Linked DNA regions of Homo sapiens: region 1 is linked to region 2. Evidence: fine-mapped expression QTL. A gene starts in region 2. The other region holds a variant in brackets. All regions are shown on one strand. Distances are from middle to middle.

Region 1 (8,326 bases), 150 kb after region 2:
CAGAGTGGTACAGCATTTTATGTTCCCACCAACAGTGTGTGAGCATTCTAGTTTTTCCACATCCTCTCCTGTTATCATCTGTCTTTGGTAACAGCCATGCTAGTGGGTTTGAAGCATATTCCACTGTGGTTTTGACTTGCATTTCCCTAGTGAATAATGGCGTTGAGCATCTTTTCATGTGCTTGTTCTCATTTGTCTTGCTCTGCTTTTGACTTACAGAGTATCCTGAGCTCCAGCTGGACCCTAAATTGGATCCTCTTCCTGCTGAGAGTCCCCTAATGAACATTGAGGTTGTTGAGGTCCTCACACTGAACCAGGAGGTGGCTGGTCCCCGGAATGCCCAGATCCAGGCCCTATATGCTGAAGATGGAAGCCTGAGTGCAGATGCCCCCAGTGAGCAGGTCCAACAGCAGGGCAAGCATCCAGGTGACCCTGAGGCCGCGCGCCAGAGGTTCCGGCAGTTCCGTTATAAGGACATGACAGGTCCCCGGGAGGCCCTGGACCAGCTCCGAGAGCTGTGTCACCAGTGGCTACAGCCTAAGGCACGCTCCAAGGAGCAGATCCTGGAGCTGCTGGTGCTGGAGCAGTTCCTAGGTGCACTGCCTGTGAAGCTCCGGACATGGGTGGAATCGCAGCACCCAGAGAACTGCCAAGAGGTGGTGGCCCTGGTAGAGGGTGTGACCTGGATGTCTGAGGAGGAAGGTAAGTAGAAGGGTGGGTAGAGGGACAGCTTAATGAGGGTGTCTTGGAGTACCCTGTGGGGGAGATAAGAACTCCAGGCTTCCTAGGAAGGTCATGGGAAGGATTGTGTCCGCTCCATACAGACCAAGGACATCCATGTTGCCCACGTGTTCCTGAGTCAGAGCCACTGAAACCCTTGCATTCTTTAGCCCTTCGTGGGCTTCTGATGGAAGCACACAGATGAAGTGCTTCATTTTTATCCCTCTGGCATCCCTGCTGCACCATAAGCCCTGTAGCACTTGATAAGATAGATGGGAATACTGAGCTCAGAGAGCCCGCAGTAGCAGGAGAGACAGGGATTTGACAAATGAGAATGCATAGAAAAATGCTGGGACTATGAGGAGCTCGAGGTGATGGTGAGGCTTATGAAGGTCTGCAGCTGACACCTGGTGTGGAGTGGAACTTGGCCAGGGTAAAGAAAGGGGGCAGGAAAGATGTGCCATGCAGAGGGGAGCACTGCCTGTAAGGGCCAAGATGGAAGGGATCACAGTAAATGCAAAACTCAGAAAAATCGGTTATGTTTGTGATGGAAGGGAGCAGAGGTTGGAGCTGGCACTGCCAGTGGGGACTTTAGTCCTAAAGCAAAGCAAAATGTTCTTCTAAAACAGTAGGGCTCGATCCCTGAGTTCCAGAAACTGGTGGCACCACTGGATTTGACCTTTAGAGATTTACCAGGCTGCATGTGTGGTGGATGGTGGACAGAGGATGGGGGCGAGGCTGGACACAGGCTACCCGCAGCTATTGCCATGCCCTCTGATGGGGTGGTGTCTTGGATAGGAGTGATGGTGATGTCTGACTGGGGAGAGACTACACGTGTGGAGTGTGTATTTGGGAATAAGACTGCAAGACTTGGTTTCTTCATCAGGCTGAGTTTCACAGAGCGTGCATGCTTCTGCATTGCTCACCTCCATTTTCCACATTTCACGGGTGCCCAGAAGATGTTTCTGATGTGAACGAATGATTGACTGGTTGATGTTTGTGATTGCAGGAAAGGGGAAGGTATCCTGCAGGGGGATGGTGGGATTCTAAGAGGCCAGGGCATCCTGGAGATCGGGTATCCGAGGCAGCAGGGCAGGCACTTGCATGAGTTGTGTCAGATGCACCAAGTCTGGGGTGCTGTACTTGGCAGAATAATTGCCCCAAAGGTGTCCATGTCCTGACTCCTGGACCCTGTGAATAAGTTGCCTCACATGACAAAGGGGACTTTGCAGAAACAATTAAGGATCTTGAGAGGGAGAGATGCACTGGATTATTTGAGTGGATCTAACATAACCACAGGGGCCCTTAGGAGAGGGAGGCTGGAGGGTCAGAGGAGATGTAATGATAGGAGCAGCTGATAGAGGAAGAAGCCATAAGCCAAATGTTTGGGGCAGCCTCTAGAAGCTGGAAAAGGCAAGGAATGGATTCTCCCTTGGAGCCTCCAAAAGGAACATAGCCATGCTGACACCTTCATTTTAGCCCAGTGAGGCACAAACCAGACTTCTCATCTCCAGAACCATAAGGTAATACATTTGCATTAATCTGAGCCGCTGGCATTGTGGCAATTCACTATAACAGCAATAGGAAACTAGTTAGTTAGGTGCCAAGGAGACAGTTGTGGGGTTAATGAGGTGAAAGTCAGTGAATTCACCCTGTGTTTAACCTCAGGGGTGAATAAAATAAATTAGTGCCACAGAAGACAATGGGAAGAGGCTTTCCAGAGAACCCTGAGAATCTCACATTATGTGATCAGTGTGTTAGTTGGGACGCTTGAGTGTGACTGCTGCAAAGCCTTGCACAGAATGGCTCAAGGGAGAAGGAGAATTTATTGGAAAAGTTCCAGGGTGCTCGAGCATCAGGCAGGGCTGGACCCAGGAGCTCCAATAGTGTCCTCCAGACTTGTCCTGTCCCTCATTCTTACCTCTTCTGCCCTCCACTGGCTTCATCATGGGCAGGCTGTCTCCCTGCATGGGATTTCTCTTTCCCAAATGTTCCAACTAAGGCCTTGTTGGCTCCAATCATCTGGCTATAGGCTGTGTTCATCCCAGATCTAATCACTGTGGCCAAGAGAAAGGGATGGTCCAGTGTGCCAGCCTAAGTCATCTTGTGGCCCACCTTGATGGTGGGGGTAGATTAGCATTGTGGAAGCCTGTGGACCATTTGGGGTCATGTGAGGAAGGTTAGAATGAAGGAGCCGTGGTTACAGGGGCCCTTGGGCCAGGTGGAGCTGTTGTTTTCTTAGGTGGAGGAGACTTGGTGACGTTCACCTCAAGATGGCTGCATTTCATGGGTCCAGGGAAAGTCTCACCTTCCATGAGGTGGGAGGAGAGA[G/A]GGAAGAAGGAAGAGGTGCCCAAATAGGCAGGGTGCAGGGCTTGGAGGCCGGAAACAGGGGCTTTGACTCTAAGGAGGGGGCGTCAGTCAGCTGCCTCACAGGAGGGGCTGGGGCCCTCAGCAGCCCCCGGAAAGGGAAGGAGTGGGACCAGAGTCTCAGCAGTGAGGACACTGGTGCCCTGTGACCCTTGGAGGGTGAGCCATCCCGGGCCCATCCAGGTGTGGGCACTCGGGCACGTGCTGTGAGGGGAGCAGAGCTGGTGGGAAGGGAGGACAGGAGCAGAGGCTGTCATGGAGCCACAGTACGATGCAGGGGTGCGGTGGCCCCATGGGTTGCAGAGAGGCCACCCTTGCCCTGCCTAAGGGTCCCCACACCTGCTGACCTCCTCTGGCTGGTGTCTCCTCCCAGTACTTCCTGCAGGACAACCTGCCGAGGGCACCACCTGCTGCCTCGAGGTCACTGCCCAGCAGGAGGAGAAGCAGGAGGATGCAGCCATCTGCCCAGTGACAGTGCTCCCTGAGGTAAGCGGGGAGTATCACCCTGTTTTGGTCACAGCATCTCCTGTGAGGCAGGCCCACCCCTGAGGCATCCACTCTGCCCTGGGCTTTCCTAAGACCTCCCACAGGCTGGGACATTCTGAGATTCTGAGCTCTTAGGTCTGTGCTGAAGCAATCTGAGTATGAAGAGCAGCCCTGCCCTCCAGCCACTGTGGCATCACTGGAGACAACGCATGGTGACCCGGGAGCTGAGAAAGCAGGAGGCAAGAGGGAAGGGACTAAGTGTTTACAGAGACTTGAGAGGTGGAACTACCACAGGCAGGCACATCTGTATCCAGGTCAGAACAAGAGAGCCCTCAACCTTCAGAAATGCATACTTAGGTATTTATCTTTGGTATCTGGGATTTGCTTCAGAATAACCCAGAGCTGGGGTGTGGGTGAAAAAGATTGGTCCTGATGCGCTGACCACTGGGGTAGTGGTATGTATGTGTCATTGGTCAGACCTGTTTGCACTGCAAATGGCTTATACTGGCTCAAGCGTAGAAGTCAATTTATTGGCTCTCATGTATTCTCTGGTAGGCTTCAGGCAAGGCTGCATCCAGGTGCTCCCAGGTGATGGGAAGAATCTCTGGCCAACCTGTTTCATGGCTCTGCTTTCTCCCCTTTCTTCTTCTTTTTTTTTGAGATGGAGTTTCACTCTTGTTGCCCAGGCTGGAGTGCAATGGCGCGATCTCAGCTCACTGCAACCTCTGCCTCCCAGGTTCAAGTGATTCTCCTGTCTCAGCCTCCTGAGTAGCTGGGATTACAGACAGCTGCCACTACACCCGGCTAATTTTTGGTATTTTTAATAGAGACGGGGTTTCACCATGTTGGCCAGGCTGGTCTCGAACTCCTGACCTCAGGTGATCCACCCGCCTTGGCCTCCCAATGTGCTGGGATTATAGGTGTGAGCCACTGCGCGTGGCCACTCCCCTTTCTTCTTAGGCAGATTCTGCCCCATGTAAGCAAAATGCCTCAGATCCTGGCAAAGCAGCGTTGGGGGTACCTCTTCTTCCCAAAGTCCTGGTCAGTTCCCCAGAAAGGACCAGTCATGGCTGTGCCAGGGTGACTGCCCTCCCCCAGGTCAGCCCTGTCGACAAAGGCAGGGGCTTGGTTGTCATTTCCACCAAGTGGGAAGACAGTATTAATAGATGGAGAACCCTCTGCAGTGGGAAGATTTCAGCAATGGGCAAGCTGGATAGAGCCGTGGTTAGGATGGAGTTGTTTGCTTGTTGCACTTGGAGCTCTTTATGAAGCAAGGGCTCTGCCTCCCAGCCTGAGACCCAGACCCTGGTTTGGACCCAGTAGAACTCTTGTGGGCCCTGGGTTGGTGTCTCTGAGCAAATCCCCAAAGCAGGAGAGTCCCTAGCACCGTGAGCTCTGTCAGAACCTCCCAGCTGGCCTTTCTTCTGCCCTCATTGACAACCCTCTGACCCTCTTGCTGAGCATAGACACATATGTGATGTTACAGGAGCCAGTGACCTTCCAGGATGTGGCTGTGGACTTCAGCCGGGAGGAGTGGGGGCTGCTGGGCCCGACACAGAGGACCGAGTACCGCGATGTGATGCTGGAGACCTTTGGGCACCTGGTCTCTGTGGGTAAGGCTGTGCCCCCTCTTCACCCACCTCAGGGCTGGTAGGCCACAGGAGCCCCAAGTCAGGGGTGTTCACCTTCTCTAGACTCCACACTGGGCATTCCCTCAAGGGGCCCTTGCTGCATCCAGGGCCTGTAAGTGGAACTGTAGACCTAGAGGGGTGAGGTCACTGGGTGGCCAGAAGCAGCCTTAGGTCCGGTGAAGGAGTGATTTGCTATCTATCTCCTGAGGGAGTATGAGAGAACAGGAACTCGAAGAGCTCGGAGGACACTCCCTGCCCTTCCTGTCCCTTGTTCACCAAGGTCAGTGCTCCCCTCCCTGCCGCTTCATTGCTTTTCAGTCTCTCTCCAGGTTGCATGACTCTATTTGGGAGAAAAAAAAAATCCTGACTTTTGAACTTAATTATGCATTTCATGCTCTCAGACCCATCCCAGCACATCTCTCTATGGGATCCACATCTTTTGTTTATTTTTTTCAGGGTGGGAGACTACACTGGAAAATAAAGAGTTAGCTCCAAATTCTGACATTCCTGAGGAAGAACCAGCCCCCAGCCTGAAAGTACAAGAATCCTCAAGGGATTGTGCCTTGTCCTCTACATTAGAAGATACCTTGCAGGGTGGGGTCCAGGAAGTCCAAGACACAGTGTTGAAGCAGATGGAGTCTGCTCAGGAAAAAGACCTTCCTCAGAAGAAGCACTTTGACAACCGTGAGTCCCAGGCAAACAGTGGTGCTCTTGACACAAACCAAGTTTCGCTCCAGAAAATTGACAACCCTGAGTCCCAGGCAAACAGTGGCGCTCTTGACACAAACCAAGTTTTGCTCCACAAAATTCCTCCTAGAAAACGATTGCGCAAACGTGACTCACAAGTTAAAAGTATGAAACATAATTCACGTGTAAAAATTCATCAGAAGAGCTGTGAAAGGCAAAAGGCCAAGGAAGGCAATGGTTGTAGGAAAACCTTCAGTCGGAGTACTAAACAGATTACGTTTATAAGAATTCACAAGGGGAGCCAAGTTTGCCGATGCAGTGAATGTGGTAAAATATTCCGGAACCCAAGATACTTTTCTGTGCATAAGAAAATCCATACCGGAGAGAGGCCCTATGTGTGTCAAGACTGTGGGAAAGGATTTGTTCAGAGCTCTTCCCTCACACAGCATCAGAGAGTTCATTCTGGAGAGAGACCATTTGAATGTCAGGAGTGTGGGAGGACCTTCAATGATCGCTCAGCCATCTCCCAGCACCTGAGGACTCACACTGGCGCTAAGCCCTACAAGTGTCAGGACTGTGGAAAAGCCTTCCGCCAGAGCTCCCACCTCATCAGACATCAGAGGACTCACACCGGGGAGCGCCCATATGCATGCAACAAATGTGGAAAGGCCTTCACCCAGAGCTCACACCTTATTGGGCACCAGAGAACCCACAATAGGACAAAGCGAAAGAAGAAACAGCCTACCTCATAGCTCTCAAGCCAGTTGAAGAAACCTTGCCTTTTCAGCTTGACCCTGCAATATAACATGCACAGGCCTGCTTGTGAATCAGGACTGAATGTGAAAGGGAAGTATTGAGTGAGGACATTCCCAAAACCAAAGGACAACTGAGGAGACTGCCCAGCACATAATGAATAAATAAGAAAATGAGTGAGGAGTTATTAACATCATTTGGAAAAAAGATTTCCCATTCACTTGATATTGTTTGTTCACTCATTTAGTCATTAAAAGTGAGATTAATAAAATCTGAAAATGTTATATAATAACTTTAAAAAGCCAGGTAATTAATAATCTGCACTGATATTACATCCACAGTACCACAGTATTTATGTGTATGAATTAAGGATTAAAAGATAATGTGGATAAATAAACTATTGATCTATGTCTGTGTAGAACCTGTGTATTTCCTGCCTGCTTAAATATCTCTATAGTAATGATTAATATTTAAGCAACATTAAAACACAAGGAAGGAGATCATCAGATAGTTCTAGAAGATTCTGTGCAAGGCTGCAGCACCTTGGGCACAAGATACTATGTGAGTTGGGATGACTGAATCTTTCTGCTCCTTAGGGGGTTGTCATGATATGGTTAGGTGGAGGTAAGGAAAATTTAAACCCAAAGGGCTGGAAACCCCAGGCAAGTGTGGGGCTTCCTGGGAATATTCATGTTTCTTTTGTTATTTTTCGCACAGAATCTCATCCTGTCACCCAGGTTTGAGTGCAGAGGTAGAATCATAGCTTACTGTAGCCTCGAACACCTGGGCTCAAAGGATCACCTGGGCTCAAAGATCCTCCTGGCTCAGTCTTTCAAGTAGCTGGGACTATAGGCATGCACCACCATGCCTAGCTTCATTTGGTTTGTGTTTCCATTTTTCCTGAGAGACTATCACAAGGAAGGCAACTGCTCTGGCCAGGAGCCCATCACTAAGTTAAGCAAAAAGACACTGGCAATACTAGAGCATGTACTTGCCCACAGTTCACATTCTTTCTCCAGGTCACATAGCCCACAGTATATGACCCGCTCCATTCCTTGTTCTAGGCTCCACCTTTGCTCTTGAGTTCCATGTAACATTTAACATAAAACTCTGGATCAAAAATACTTAGGTTCAAGACACTGGTTGAGTGCTACTCTGCATAGCCTCTTTAGAACCCTTGGGTCTTGCCAACAAGGGTGAGGTGCAGTCGTGCCATCTAGGATGAGAGTACCTCCTTTCTCTGCAGAAGTGAAAAACCCTTGGAGACAGGACCAGAGTAGATACCTTGAGCCCATGTGCCTGGAGAATGATGGTGGTACACCAGCAGCCCTATTGCCATTCACACATTGGGCACAGGGCTTGTGGTTGCTATGTTGCTTCTAGTCATTTCAGCACTTTAATATGGCACATGTTAGCTTCTTTGAGAACATACACAGTTGAAGAACTTGCCCAGGGACGTTAGTTGGTAAAAACAGCCTCCTCAGCTGTTCAGAACTCTACAATATCACCTCTCAAGAATGAACCAAAGAATGGGACCCTTGAGATTAGAACCTGGTAAACTAAAAATTCCCAGATTCCAAATCCTAGACTGAGGGGTGAGTCCAAAGTTTTAGTGATGGCTTCAGGAACTGAGATGATGGTTTGAGCTGGGTCTGGGAAAATAAGGGACCCAGGAATAGGAA
Region 2 (8,326 bases):
CTATAGTTTTGCAAGTGGCTTGAAGAGGAGTTTCATTCGCGTCCCATCTTTCAGAAGCCTTGTCCAGGTCTCCCTGTTAGCACCTGACTCAGCGGCAGCTTCTGCCGCTGGGTTTTCATTTCACTGTGGATATCCCTGAGGCCATGAGGGTGGGAGCCGGCCTGGGCAGCTCCAACTCCAGAGAAGGGTACAGCTGACCCCGGCTGCCCTCCTGCCAGCTTAGCCCCCTTGGAACCTAACAGATAAACAGGGTTTTGTTTTTTTCCTTTTTTGGGTAAAGTACATGCAACATAAAATTTACCATTTCAGTCATTAAAAATGAACAGTTCAGTGGCATTAAGCACATTCACAACACTGTGCAACTACCAGCACTCTCTAGCTCCAAAGATGTTTTCGTCTTGCCCAGAAAGAGAGCCCACAGTCCTCAGCACGCCTTCGCCATTCCTGCCCGCCCTGACAACCAGAATCTGCTTCCTGTCTCTGAGGATTTCAGGCGCAGTCTTTAGGCCTGACCAAAACTGACCTGCCTGTATTTTGTTTGACTTACAGAAGGATTTTTTTTTTAGATAGATGCCAACATTTGTTTAAACCATAAAAATCTGGCTTTCTGGTCTGCCAGGAAGGATCAGATGGTCTCCAAAGAGTGGGCCCGCCTCTCCTGCTAGGCTGGAGCAGAGTGTGGGCAGGCGGTGACGTCACAGCGGGGAGCCAGCCTCGGACTCGGCTTCTCACCCGTCCCCAACTCATTGTTGTCGGACACTCGTCCCCTTTCAAGCAAAAGCCTTAAAAGTTTTTGCCTTTTTCTTTTTCTCCTCCCGACTTCACTTGGAAACACAGTGTTGGGCTGACTGTGAATCCGCACAGGCAGAGACATTTTTCCAAGTCGCCTTCTAAATCAAAAGCCTTTGGACTTACCCACGTCACATCCGCCTGCTGCTGCTTCTCAACCAAGCTGCCCCCACTCTCGGCCTCTGTCCCCGATGGCCCTCTCGGGCTGTGCAGGTCCCACGGACCCACCGCTGCCTTCACTTCATCCTCGCTGCCGCGCTTGCCTTCTCACGCTTGCCTTCTCGGAGCGCCCCCTAACCGCGCCTCCGGACCTTGCTTCCCGGCTCCCTCAGGCATCCCCAGCTTTTCCCTGCAGTCCCCACTGGGGGCTCCTGGCTCTATCCTATGCCTTAATTGCTGGTGGGCTCCAGCTCCCCTCCTGGCACCTTCTCTCTCATCCTGCAAAGGAGGAGCTTCTTCTACAGAGCTCAGGATGGAGGGTGGGGTCTTGGCCCCGCAGTCAGCCCATTACTCTCGGAAGCCCCCCTGAGCCTTCTCTCAGGCGCAGATTGATCGTCTCAGACAACGGGATGTGTAGAGATAGCTCTCCCGAGTGCCCCCACTTGTTGGGAGCCAGGGGCTCATTCCATGCTGTTTCCATCTCGGTCTCCACCTGCTGGAGGCACAATCACAGCTCAGTTTGTTGGTGCCAGAGTTGCACAAGAAAGTGGGTGCCATTGAACACGAGGCATCAGTCAGGCTCCAGCCTACCTGGGCTGGCCCCAGAGACATCCATCTGGTGTCCCTCAGTTCTCCAATTGAGTTTGTCCAAATAACTCATCTTCCCTTGTGCAAAAACAAAAAACAACAACAAAGAAAACAACGCAAACTGCCTCCCCTCTGGGGTTCCCACTCCCCTCAGAGGGACCACCACCTTCCAAGGCCCCACAAGGATTTTTGATTGCCCTGGGAACCCAGCTCCCAATCCCTCTCAGTTCTCTTTTCTCCTCTGCACCATCAGCCCCAGGCTCTCTCCCCATTTCTTGAATGCCTGCAGCTGCCTCTAAGCAAACTCTGCCTCCAGCCCGTTCCCTCTGCCCCATCCCCATCCTGCAGCCAACAGGGTCCCTCTAAAATGCAGACACTGAAAAGACAAAGCCCAGCAGGGTAGCTCTATAGTGTCCTTTGTGGCCCTGCTGCCTCCACAGCCCCCAGCACTGGGATGGTGGAGGCTGGTGTCCTTAACTCACTGTGTCTCCACCTGACTCCACACTGCCTCTCACCCTGGCCTCCTCCTGTGCCTAGAACAGTCTCCACTGCCATACTTGACCACACCCAGCATACAACAGGTCCTACAGAGTGAAGGGATGAGTGACTCAATGAGTGAGGGGAAGTCCCTGTGGAGACACCGGGACACCATTGTGGGCTGCAGTTTCCAGCCGGGGAAGCCTCCCTCGACCTCTGAGGGGAGGTGGGCCACCCCTTGAGGGCCACTCTCAATGCGCTCCACCTTGGCTGACGGAAGCAAGGACGTGGCCCAGGATCCTGGAGGGCCACTCCTGTGTGCGCCACCTTGGCTGACAGAAGCAAGGACGTGGCCCAGGGTCCTGGAGGGCCACTCTTGTGTGCTCCACCTTGGCTGACGGAAGCAAGGACGTGGCCCAGGATCCTGGAGGGCCACTCTTGTGTGCTCCACCTTGGCTGACAGAAGCAAGGACGTGGCCCAGGGTCCTGGAGGGCCACTCTCACGTGCTACACCTTGGCTGACAGAAGCAAGGACTTGGCCCAGGGTGCTGGACCAGTTGTGGCAGCTGCTGCAACTCACGAAAGCCACCACGTGGTGTTCTTCACCTAACTTGCCCAGTCCCAAGCCCCTGCCCGAGCTGCAGTGAGACAGAGCACTAGCCCCTCTCTTCTCTTTGGGTTCACCCCAGCTGTGGAAGCCCCAGCACCTCAGCACGCCTCCCTTGCCCTGTGCCTTCCTCTGCCAGCACCCCCCAAAGACTCCAACACCCCCATCACGATGTGCCCCAGTCTCCTGTCCTCCAGCCCTTGTCACAGGAGCTGTGAGCCCAGCCCTGGGCACTTCACGCTCTGGAAGACCGGAGTCTCAGACGCCACCTTTCTCCCTGGCAGCCAGGGTCTCTTGGGTCAGAGGAGGCCTGGACACTGCCAGGTTTTGAAGCTGTCAAAAAGATTTTTTTTTTAAAGGGAGAAATATGTCCAGGGAGCTGTAACTGTTACAGTATATTTTAAATGTATGTGTTGAACAGATTAACTTTTTGAACATTAACATACAGCATGACACAGTTCTGCTATCCATGCTGTGATTGCAGGATTGCTTGGAAGCTGTACTGATGTGCAGCCCACCTGCTCATGGTGGGGGGTCCTGTTCCAGGCCACAGAGAGGCAACCAGCAATGCTCTGCTTGGAGATTCGTACAGGAAGCCAAGAAGGAGCTGAGAGGGGCCCAGCCAGTGGTTACAAGAGACAGCAGGAGGTTCAGACCACAGCAAGGGTGGCACTGGAGTAGCCTCCAGCTCATCTTATTTGACTGGTAGAGTGTTATTAAAGCCTTTGAAATCCCTACCAGCTTTTAAAAATCAAGAGATTTCACATAGAAATCCTGATCTCTGGGTTCTTTAGAGAAATCCAGACCTGGGACGCTGGGCTTGCCAGTCCGCACGACCCCACTTGGCTGGAGCCAAGCAGCACTTGCCCCTGTAGAAAGAGCCCGCCCCTGCAAAAGCATGTACGGTTTAGAAACCTGGCTGAGAAAAACAGAGGATCAGAAGGTCTGAGGGAGGAAACAGAGGGGCAAGTTTGAGGGAGCTGGGCAGGGCCGCCTGGCCACCATCAGGGCTGAGCAGGCTCAGTGTGGCACCACTGACAGCTTCTCACCAGGACTATCAGACCGCTTGGGAAAAAGACTTCACCATGAGTTGTGTGTTCATACCTTTTGATCCAGTAAAAGGAAACGGTTGGGGGTGGGGGTGGGGGGCAAGAGTATACATTTTGTGAAAGAAAAAATACACAAAAAGATGTTTTGTGGCATTTGGGTTTGTGAGTTCGAGAACTGAAAAACGGCATTTTATGTATAATGGAAAGCCTCTTTACTGCTGTAGAGTGAAAAGCAGGCTGGCTTTCAGTGCGACGGTCACAAATGTGGGGCTTTACAGTACTTGGAATGTACAGGACGCCCTTAAAAGCCAAGAAGCTTGCCTTTGCTTTGTTTACATCAGTGCATTATGATTTTGAGCCATTATATCTCTTCATAATTGCCACTGTTTTAGGGCTTATGAAATTTAAAGTCTTAACTTGTGTGTTAACCAGCCAAATCTTTGCAAGTGTCTGTGTGTGGTACGAGAATTCGTATTGTGTTCTCTGCTGTTTTCAGAGTTGTTTCAGTCAAAGAAAAAAAAATGCCCGTCTTAAAACTTTTCCTCTGCTTCAAATACAGCTCCCAAGCCCAGGCTGATTGGAATTAATCTGTCCTCCCTTAAAAGGGCAAAAGCACAAGGCTCAGCCCTGGCTTTCCCAGCTCCTCTGGTCTCGCTGCTCCACGGACGTGTGACGTACGCTGGTGAAACGAAGCCCGCTTGAATGGGGGCTTCACTATTGTGTGCTGCTGAACCTAGGCCTAGCGCCTGGCAGGCTTTGGTGAATGTTCAGAAAATGACAATTCATTTCGTGTCAGCGAGGGCACACCAGCTTTGAATATTTTGCTGCTGTTCAAATGCACAATTTTGACAATTACCTAGCAATGTCCAAAGTCGTCATAATTGTTAGTGTCTTGCACGTGATGTTCCTTATAACCATGTAATAAATACAGTGTGAAGTCTCCATGGCTGCCTCAGTGTGGAAAATGCAAAGACTCCCGTGTGTGCGATCTTGGTGAATGTTTTGGTTGAAAGTATGTGTTTTGAAAAAATCATTGCTTTGTTTGCAGCAGTAAAACTGACGGTAGAGTTTCCAACACGAAAGCCCGTGTGGTCGCGCCGGGAGCTCACGGCGTTCCAAGCGGCACTTATCCCGCGTTGATGCCCAGGCACCCCGCGCGCCCTGTTTCACCAGGCCCAGTCACTCCAGCTCCAGCAGCACTGAGAGCTCACGAACGCCAAGGGCGAGAGCGAGGTGGGGGAGGGCGGCCGGAAATGCGCGCGCGGCTCTCTGGGAAATGGAGTTAGGCTCGCGCCGGCGCAGTGTCGGCTGCCGGTGCCGCGGCCTTTGTCTCGCAGTCAGGAGGGTGAGCTAGGCCGGCGAGGAGGGGGAGGGGAGGCCAGGCCGGGCCGGGCCGGGCCGGGTGCGGGGGGTCCGGGGATCTTCCTGAGGCCCTGGCGGGGCGAGTTTCCAGCAGCGCGCGTCTGTGTGGAGTCCGTTTTGCTGCCCGGGGCCTGGGGAAGGCCGTTTCGGGGCTGGCGGGGGCAGGCTTTGCGGGGCATCCCTAGTCTGAGAGGAGGGCGGGGCCCAACGCCCAGCTGGACAGGAGCTGCTCCGACGGCCCCTGAGGGAACGCGCGCCCCGCCCCTGGCCCCACCTCTGCCCCACACCGGGCACTGGGCCGCCACCTTTGTTGATGGAAGAGAGAAACTGAGGCATAGTGCCCAGGGCCAGGGGACCGCAACCACCCGGCCCTTGTCACTGTAGCGTTAAGGCTCAGAGTCTGCGCAGCAGATATGTGTCCGCACCCGCCAGGCCTTCAGCTTCCCTCAGACAGGCGGGAAAACCCTAGGCTGCCCTTCTCCGAGCGGAGGGCCGCCCCACACACAGCAGGCGCTTAAACGGGTACGCGGGGCCCTGGACGGCTCTCCGCGGAGCTCCCCAGGCTCTGGCGCAGTTCCCCGGCTTGGGGACCTGAGCACCGCCTCTGCCTGCCCCAGCTGCTCACCTCCCCTTTCCCACAGAGCAGGGCCAGCCGTTCCTGCCAGAAGCCAGGGCATGACCCCTGGGGTGCGCGTCTCCACAGACCCGGTGAGAATCTCGGCCTCCTTGCGCGTGTCCTCCACCTCGTGCCCGGCCTCCTCGCGCGCGGCCTTCTCACGCCCGGCCTCCTCTTTGCACCCCGTCCCTACTCGCGCTCAGCCTCCTCCTTGTGCCCGGCCCCTACTTGCGTGCCCGGCCCCTACTCGTGCCCGGCCTCTACTCGCACAACTGGCCTCTACTCGCGCACCTGGCCTCTACTGGTGCCCGGCCTCTACTCGTGCCCGGCCTCTATTTGCACATCTAGCCTCTACTCGTGTCCGGCCTCTACCTGCACACCCGGCCTCCTAAAGTCCGCGCCAAGCTCCCCAACCACAGCCTGCCTCTGAAAGGACCGCCCACGCCGCGCTGGAGGTCAGCGGGCACGGGTCCCTGTCTGAGTGGGCTTTATGTTTGTGCGGCCGTCATTGCATACCTGAGGCTGGGTGATGTCAGAAAATTGTAGGTGCCCCGGCTCTGCAGTCTGAAGTTGAAGGCCTTAGCATGCTCTGCGCTCCAAGATGGCGCATCGAGTGCCGCTTCCTCAGACGTCATGGAGGCCAAGGGGGCGGAACTCGCCTTTTTATGATGACATTAACCCCACCCATAAGCCACCAGAAGAAACCAGCCTCCTGTAGGAATGTCAGAAAACCCGTACAAGGGGACTGGTGCGATGGCTTGTAGCTGTAATCCCAGCTATGGGGGAGGATTGCTTGAGCCCAGGAGTTGGAGGCTGCAGTGAGCCATGATGTGCCACTGCACTCCAGCCTGAATGACAGTGGAACCCTGTCTCTAAAAAATTAAAAAACAAACCCAGATTTGGCCGGGCGCGGTGGCTCGCACCTGTAATCCCAGCACTTTGGGAGGCCGAGGTGGGCGGATCACGAGGTCAGGAGATCGAGACCATCCTGGCGAACACGGTGAAACCCCGTCTCTACTAAAAATACAAAAAAAAATTAGCCGGGGGGGTGGCGGGCGCCTGTAGTCCCAGCTACTCGAGAGGCTGAGGCAGGAGAATGGCGTGAACCCAGGAGGCGGAGCTTGCAGTGAGCCAAGATCATGCCACTGCACTCTAGCCTGGGCGACAAAGCGAGACTCCGTCTCGGGGGAAAAAAAAAACCACCCAGATTCAGTCTTTAGACTTCTGCTACTAGCTTTATAACTTTGTTTATCCCCTAGGCTGAAGTGCAGTGATGCAATCATGGCTCACTGTGCTTCAAACTTACGTGCTCAAGTGATCCTCCCACCTCAGCCTGTTAAGCAGCTGGGACCACGGGCATGCGACACCATGCTGGGCTGGTCCACTCCTTTATTGCTGGCTCCCTCCATTTCTTATTTCAAGAGACAAATTATTGGAAACGGGCATGATGCCTTAGATTCTAAGATCCTCCACCTCATCAGCAGGGCACCCATCCAGGCCCCACAGAAAAACCTGACCCAAAACCCCAGACCAAAGGGAACTCCATCCGACCCAGCCTGGCTGGCATTTACCAGCTACCCCACCAGCAGCCAGTGCCAGGGTTGGCTTGGCTGAGGACACTCGTGTGATGTTTCAGGAGCAAGTGACGTTTGAGGACGTGGTAGTGGGCTTCAGCCAGGAGGAGTGGGGGCAGCTGAAGCCTGCCCAGAGGACCCTGTACCGTGATGTAATGCTGGACACCTTCAGGCTTCTGGTCTCTGTGGGTAAGGCCACACCCATGTCCTATCTGTTGATCTGTCCCTGACACGGATTCTGATTCTACCAGGTTAAATATTTATAGGACTGAGCTTTAAAAGCAAATGCCTGGGGCTGTATGTCTTGGGCTTTAAGAACCTGACTGTTTTAATGTAGGAAATATCAATTAAGACCAATATTAGCAAGTCTCAGACTCAACCTGAAATCAACAGAAGCAGAGAAACATGAGGTGAGGGAAACATACTGGGTCTGAAGACTACAGAATCCCAGGGTAGACCAGGGTGTTCTGTAGAGCTGTTAGGAGCCCCTCCTTCTTCAACACCTCCCTCTGCACTTCTGTCTTAGTCTGTTAGGGCTGCTAAAATACCTTAGACTGGGTAATTTTAAACAATAGATATTTGTTGCTCATGGTTCTGGAGGCTGGGAAGCCTAAGATCAAGGTGTCAGCAAATTCAGTGTTTGGTGAGGGCTTGCTCCTCACTGATGGCACTTTCTTCCTGTGTCCTGACATGCCATAAGGGCAAGGGAGTTATCTCAAGCTTCTTTTATAAGGGCACTGATCCCATTCATGAGTGGAGCCCTCATGAATTAATCACTTCCCCAAGGCCCCACCTCAACACTATCAGATTAGGTATTACATTCTAACATTTGAACCTTATTTATTTATTTATTTATTTATTTGTTTTTAAATTTTTTATTTTTGAGACAGAGTCTCGCTGTGTCACCCGGGCTGGAGTGCAGTGGTGCGATCTCGGCTCACTGCAAGCTCTGCCTCCCGGGTTCACACCATTCTCCTGCCTCATCTTCCTGAGTAGCTGGGACTACAGGTGCCCACCACCACGCCTGGCTAATTTTTTTTTTTTTTTGTATATTTAGTAGAGACGGGGTTTCACCGTGTTAGCCAGGATGGTCTCGATCTCCTGA

Evidence for each region.
Region 1: its variant is fine-mapped to the expression of ZNF135 in whole blood (INTERVAL, PIP above 0.99).

What each region holds. Positions count from the first base shown.
Region 1 is chr19:58,206,501-58,214,826 of GRCh38, forward strand. ZNF274 (zinc finger protein 274) reads left to right here. Exons shown (of 8, transcript NM_133502.3): 5 at 220-702; 6 at 3,461-3,573; 7 at 5,060-5,186; 8 at 5,661-7,062. The coding sequence ends at 6,643. Among named protein-coding and RNA genes, the nearest start is that of ZNF544, 18 kb to the right of the region's middle. The variant G/A (reference allele first, on the strand shown) is at 3,052.
Region 2 is chr19:58,054,297-58,062,622 of GRCh38, forward strand. It overlaps ZNF135 (zinc finger protein 135), which reads left to right and starts at 4,986. Exons shown (of 5, transcript NM_001289401.2): 1 at 4,986-5,014; 2 at 5,673-5,739; 3 at 7,284-7,410. The coding sequence starts at 5,707. It overlaps ZSCAN1 (zinc finger and SCAN domain containing 1), which reads left to right. Exons shown (of 6, transcript NM_182572.4): 6 at 1-335.